Homo sapiens: one gene and its partner. The protein of the gene in region 1 interacts with the protein of each later gene in a pairwise test. Each region holds a gene or a part of one and is shown on either strand. Other genes may lie near its edges.

What was found. The genes of interacting proteins can lie anywhere in the genome.
Region 2: the proteins of MEOX2 (region 1) and GPATCH2L interact in binary tests that used the Homo sapiens proteins (3 or more experiments, as listed by UniProt).

What each region holds. Positions count from the first base shown.
Region 1 is NC_000007.14:15,676,684-15,680,183, reverse strand, and holds part of MEOX2 (homeobox protein MOX-2), read left to right. Parts: exon of another isoform or gene 1-1,270; intron 1,271-2,536; exon of another isoform or gene 2,537-2,721; intron 2,722-3,500. UniProt on the Homo sapiens protein: Mesodermal transcription factor that plays a key role in somitogenesis and somitogenesis and limb muscle differentiation. Required during limb development for normal appendicular muscle formation and for the normal regulation of myogenic genes.
Region 2 is NC_000014.9:76,158,422-76,161,921, forward strand, and holds part of GPATCH2L (G patch domain-containing protein 2-like), read left to right. Parts: intron 1-3,500.

The DNA of each region.
Region 1 (3,500 bases):
TTATTACCAAATTAACAGAAAGTTACATGGTAAGTGTATGATCGAATGGGTTATTAATTTTCATGGGTCATGAGTGGGTTTTTAATTTTCCTCTATATTTGAAATTTTTGATATATAATTTCCGGAATAATAAGTAGCTCATTATTCCTGAAGCTTTCATTTATAATGTTACTTTGTGTACAGAAATATAATATTTCTAAATTTATATATGTTACTCACTACTAATTGTGCACTGTATTTTTAAATATTGGTTTTCACAGTGTTATGAAAATAATTTACATTTTTTTGGTTTCTTACATCACCATATGCACAAGAATGATCAGGTAGAATCCGTACTGTATCTATACATTTTTGGAAAGGGTTTGTATGAAAGATAGAAAAACCCTTTCAAAAATAATCCCTTGTTTTATCAATAGAATTAGAAATTAATAAACTGGATCATTAACTTGTATGATAATATTGTTATTTTATTTTTAAAATTTCCATTTATTTAAATGTTTAATAATTCTAAAATGTTTGTGTACCTTGATGACAATTCTTATGTCCTTACAATGTGTACTTTTATTGCAAATATAACATATTTTTACTAGGTAGTAACTCAGTGGTAAAAACTTTAGGGTACTGATTATAGCTCTAAATTCAAAAGCTGTTGCTCTTCAAAATTTTGTAGAATCAATTCAATGTGAATGTTTCAAATGTATTTAAGTATTCTGCTGTTTGTGTTCATAAGCTTTCTTTCTAAGATGTTAGACGTATGTTTCTTAAAGCTTGCATAGGCTACATTGATTAAAATTATGATTATAAGCTGCTTACTTTCATAGTTTTTTGTTTTTATTGTAGTCTAGTAGAGAGGACAATGGCAAGGAAAGGATAAAAGGGAGGGTGCTGAATTAACTAGGACATGGAAGCTATACTTAAAACACACGTTAAAAGAAGGCGTTTACTTTATATATGTATATACATATATAGGTATATGCACACTCACACCCACACATATATATGCATGCATTACTGTAACTCCAAATTTAATTTCCTGATAATAGTAAATCTGAATTAGAGCATCCTTATTAAATGCATAATATGATTATAAATGTTCCAATTACAAAATTAAATATTAAGCTTGAAGCATATATAGTTTTGTGAAGAGTCCAGCAGGCTTAAGCTGGCAATCAATGATAGTTATAAAAGTCCCTGCAGTTTTTGTTTTCTTTTGTTTTTCCTCTTTATTTAGCTCATTATTCTTCACACACTTCAAGAGAATCCCATAATGCTACAAGGAAAAAACAAATTCGCAGTTATCTTACGTGACTGTGGGCAAGAAAATGACTAAGGTGAAATCATCTGTCAGGCTCCGCAAAACCTAGAGGAGGGTCCAGCTTAGGTTGGCAGATGCCAGTAGAATTTTAAAGGCCTAGAATTTTACTCTTTGAAAATATAGCCTTAAATTTTTGCCAGAAATGACACCCAAATGAAAACTTATTTTTGCAAAGTGATAGTTATTTGCAAATGCAGTAGTGAAATATATTCAGAGTCTGTTGAGGTAGCTTGTCCACTGTCTGGACTGCACAGTAAACATTTGGATGGTTATTCTTAGCCACCCAAAAAACTAGCAAACTAAACTGAGGTGTATTCTTATTAGTTGAAAAGATTAAATGGGCATGCCTCTTATCAAATTAACAATGAATGCAAAGCAAATTTTGCAAATCATTGATTTATGTTGGTAGGTAACACAAACAGGAAACTATTCAGAAAAATAAATATGTGTTATCCGAAACGTAATGGGGACTAGCTTGGTTTTGTAGAACAACAGCAATTTAGCAAATAACTTTCACATTTAAAGAACCATATAAATAATGCTTTAGCACTCACTGCATAGGTTGGAATCAAGTGATGTCTTATTTAATATTATTCAAAGATAAAATGAGGTCTTAGTATGTGTAGTGCCTTTAACAATTAAAATTTTCTCACCTATAGGCTATGCTTACGTGGGAATTTCTTTTTCTTATTTGAAGTATAAACAGATCTGGATGCATTAAACTAGACAGAATGTAGATGTAAAAATGATTGAGACATATTAAAATGACAGGAAAGTCAGAGTTTAGGCATCCCTATTTGGAGGCTTGCTGCCACCCATGTTTCTAAGATTACAGTCTTGTGAATGTCCACACTCAAAATTCAGGGAATTATAAATAATTTTTCCTCCAGAACTATTCTTTGCTCCTGGAAGTAGAGCTGTATAATTTATTTTCTAGAATACCCAGATGTTTAGGAAAGTATAAGTAAGTGGCAACACTTTTGCATATTTAGCCATTAGTTGATAAATCATAAAAGATTTATCCTATTTCTTAATTATCATATTAGACAAGGAAATAGATGTCACACTCAAAGGGATAATTGAAGAGAGTTTGATGATGGCAATTTGATGGTGAGTAGAATGTAGGGAAACCACAGGAAATGATGAATCCCCCAGGGTCTGTCCACAGTTGGAATATATTAGCACCCCTAACCTGAGAGGGTAAATGCAGGGACCTCTTACCAGAATCCAATGAGCGCAACAGGACAGAAGCCTTCTGGAAAAGTTGGGACCTCAGATGGAGGATTGCAGCTCATGTCGAATATCATCCAGTAACCTGTCTTCATGTCCTCCAATCTTCTTTTGTTGCTTCCATTGATCAAACACTATCCGAAGCCAGAACCCCGGAGGGTTAGGTGGATGCAACCCTAAGAGTCAACCGAAGAAGAAATGAGGCAAGCATATCTGGGAGAACACAATAGTTAGGGCTAAACCCCCGCTGTGTCTCTTACTATTGTCACCTCTTGGCCACAAATTTAACTTTTCTCTACCATCGTTTCTGAAAAGGAAATTGAGTTAATATACACAAAGCAATTAGAACAATGTCTGGCTTAGTAAAGTGTCAGTTATTATTTTTATCATCTATCAATGAATGTACAATTATGTAATGCATATGCACCATCTGAAAATAATCTATTTTATGCTACCTGTTTGCATTTTATTACAAATACTGCTATAGGAAATGTAACTTGCCTAAGTAATTACTAAAGATTTAAAATAATCATTGTCCTTAGAATTGTAAACGGCATGAAATTTCCCTGAAATGTAAGGTGAATTCTAGCCAAGTTATGTAAGAGGCTCAAGTTGCCTTTCCCACCCTTAAGATTTCCATTCCACAGCCTCTTTTACTTGGACCTCTCCTAACTTCCTCTTCTCTTGGGTCTCCTGCTACTTCTCCATTGAAAAGCTGTTTTCAGGAAGAGTGCATATTGAGCAAAATAAAGAATAAAATGAGGACTCTTTTTTTTTTTTTGAGACCGAGTTTTGTTCTGTTGCCCAGGCTGGAGTGCAGTGGCGCAATCTTGACTCACTGCAACCTCTGCTGTCCGGGTTCAAGTGATTCTCCTGCCTCAGCCTCCTGAGTAGCTGGGACTACAGGCGCCCGCTAATTTTTATATTTTTAGTAGAGACGCGGTTTCACCATGTT
Region 2 (3,500 bases), on another chromosome or scaffold:
TCCATCACCTCTCACTTTAACTCCCCCAAACTCTTTAATTATGAGTGTGCTTTGCTCCAGGTGTTTGTGACAGTGAAATTGCTAAATGAGGACCATTTTAACCAAAGATTGGGTGATCAATAACACTCTATAGCAGTAGCTTGTTGGATCAATAGCATTCATTATTTCATGGTTAAGGTAAGTAGCCTCCTTTGCAAGTGGAGGTCATTAATCAGGGTTTCCTGGAGCTGTGTAAAAGAATATGTATGGTAGGTGGGGGTGTTCTGTTTTCTATTCTGTAAGTAGGGATGCTGACCAAGAATATATTTACCATTGTTGCAGTTGGTAGTATTGCATGTGAGATTCTCGAATAGCTAGCATAGTGTGCTTATGTGGGTATATTCACAGTTCTGCTAGTATCCTTAGGGACAACTAAAACACACAGCTTGGGAGGTCGATATGATACTATTGTACTTGAAGGTCTATCTCTTGAAAGAAACATCCATCTCGTAAAAGAGTCTACCTCTTAAAAGAAATATTGGGATTGTTCTGTGTGGCTCCACAGGACAGAACTCAGGGATAGAGAGTACAGAGTGTTAAATGTTGCTGCGGTTAAAAAATAAGATTCTAAAAATTAGGACTCTGTAAAAATGAAGTGAATTGTTTCACCATGTAATGCGTAATAACTTCTAGATCAGGTGGGGGGATTCAAACATGGGCTTGATGACCGCTTACTTAGTTGCTGTGGAGTTGAGAAGGTTGAACTGAAGGCTTCTGAGATCCCTTGTAACACTGAGATGCTGCGATTCTTTTCAGTCACAGTCTACTTCCCACCATTGTAATGTCTTAACTGGTAAGTAGCCTCAACTGCCCACTTGAATTCTTGTGGTTCCCACTGGCAGTCATCTTCAAAGATTCATTCTTTCTCTCAACTTTTAGAATGATATTCCCTTTTCTCTTATTTCGCAGAATTTGTTCAAAGGCCTCTTGGTATTTGCCAGCAAGGGTGCATAGATTACCCTTGGTCCCCTTCTCTACTCCCGTGGACATAGGTAACTGCCATTCTCAGATCTACAGCTGGCCAAGAGAATATGCAGAGCCCCTAGCCCAGTGCTCCCAGTGCTACTGGGAGGCTTTTATCTCATACAGCTATGCTGGACTGAGATAGGATCATCTAACCCTCACTGCTTGATTCTGACCCCATTCCAGGAGTGTGCCGTAAATGAAGGTGTAGAAAACACTGCAGTCTCCAGAATGTACTGTCTCCAGAATGCACTTCTCTGCCCATGTCAACTGGAATCTTTGTTCTTGAAGACTATACTTTCTAGGACTCAATACCCTATAACTGCTTCCTACCCTCAAACACAAATACACACAGAAAACACTAAGCTTCCCTATCCAAGTGTATTCTGGGAGTTAGAGCCACCAAATAGAAACTGAAAGATACTCAGGCCGGGCGTGGTGGCTCACGCCTGTAATCCCGGCACTTTGGGAGGCCGAGGCAGGTGGATCACAAGGTTAGGAGATCGAGACCATCCTGGCTAACATGGTGAAACCCCGACTCTACTAAAAATACAAAAAAATTAGCCTTGGCGTGGTGGTGGACGCCTGTAGTCCCAGCTACTCAGGAGGCTGAGGCGGGAGAATGGTGTGAACCCGGGAGGCGGAGCTTGCAGTGAGCCGAGATCACACCACTGCACTTGAGTGCACTCGAGCCTGGGCGACAGAGCGAGACTCTGTCTCAAAAAAAAAGAAAAAAGAAACTGAATGATGCTCAATGGGAAGAGAAGGATAGAACCACACCCTGCCTCAACCTGTAGCTGCCTGATTTTCTGACTGAAACTGGCCTTGCATTTCTGAACTGCAAGGTGACTGTAGAGAAAGGATGCAGGGGCTTGCTATCTACCTTCAGGGCAGGCTCAGCACTTCTAACGTGGGCCTCCATTTCATTGTCAAGTGTGGTTCTATCAGCCTTGTAGTTTGAGGAAATCTTGGCAATAGGCCATCTGTATTCTCTATTGCTACAGAAAAAAATCGCCCTAAAACTTAGTAGCTCTAAACAAAGAGACCAAGTCTGTGAGTATGTAAATATTCCCAGGGAAGAAACCAAAGTGCTGGAGAAGAAGATACAACTGAAGAGAAAAAAGTGTTCTTGAGTTGAAAAATTAAGTCTTAAGATTAAAAGCGAAAATTAATGAGAAGAGACTTCTACTGAGACGGAGATTTTAAAAAAATATTTTATTTTAGTTTTTCTTTTTTTCACATATGCTCAAGACTAAGGAAAGAAAAATCTTAAAAGGGGTTGAAGACTGGGTGCAGTGGCTCAGACATTCTTAGATATGCAGGCCCCAGAATCCATGTTCTTTAAAAATTTACTGTGAGAAGACGTTCCATCTACCTGAAGATGAATCACTGTTAGCTCTAAGAAAAGGGAAGTCTTGAAAGGATGGGTGGACTTCTCTGAGGCACAGCCCCCAGCTCAATAGCAGAGTCCTGAGGAAAATTCTGTCTCTGCAAAGTATACCTGATTGTACTAGTCACAGTATCGAACCTGTCAACCTGCGGAGGTTGCTGCCTTTCATGGCACTGTCTGAATGAAACTGAAAAAGAAATTCTTTTATTATATATTCTCATTACTTATAGGAATAATTTCAGAACTGATGTGAGATATTTCTCTGAATAACCTCTCCCTCAGTCTTGTTTACTACTAGATTCAGAAGTCTGATTACAAAGGGTTACCAGTGTGCCACCTCTACCCTGGAAAAAAACTGGAAAACGATAGAACAAAAATACCTTTGGGCAGTAGATCTAAGAGTGACTTTTTTCCACGTTTTTCTAAATTCTGAAACAACTTTTATTTTTGTTAAGTGCATTATTATTTACTAAGAAAAGTTTTTTAGAATGACGATGTAAGCCATAAACTTTAAGATATCTATTAATTAGATGCAAAAAACACCTCTTATTAAGCTACTTGGTTAATAAGCTCTTAAATGGGGAGAAACAAACCCAGATGGTAATTTATTAATACCAACTTTTGATTGTAGGTGATAAAGTAATTCTGTACCTCCTTATTATAATTGGAACAGGTATAAGTTACTCTTTCAGTTCTCACTTTACAGTCTTCTGTGGTTAGGAGTATGAAAGAATTAGCAAGCTCTCAGATCAGAGGGTGTGCTGTGCTTTTTTCCCACCCCCTGCTCCCCCTGGCAATTTTGGGAATTCAGAGGGGTTTATTTTGTTGAAACTAGAAGCTACTGTTTAGGAAGAAGGGAATTAATTTCAACAAAGAGTTTATAAAGATTCTGTATTATCTGTTGCTGCAGAAAAAATTGCCCTAAAACTTACTAGCTCTAGGACGGGTGCGGTGGCTCATGCCTGTAATCCTAGCACTTTGGGAGGCCTAGGCGGGTGGATCACCTAAGATCAGGAGTTTGAGACCAGCCTGACCAATGTGGTGAAACCTTGTTTCTACTAAAAATATGAAAATTAGCCAGGCGTGGTAGCACAGGCCTGTAATCCTA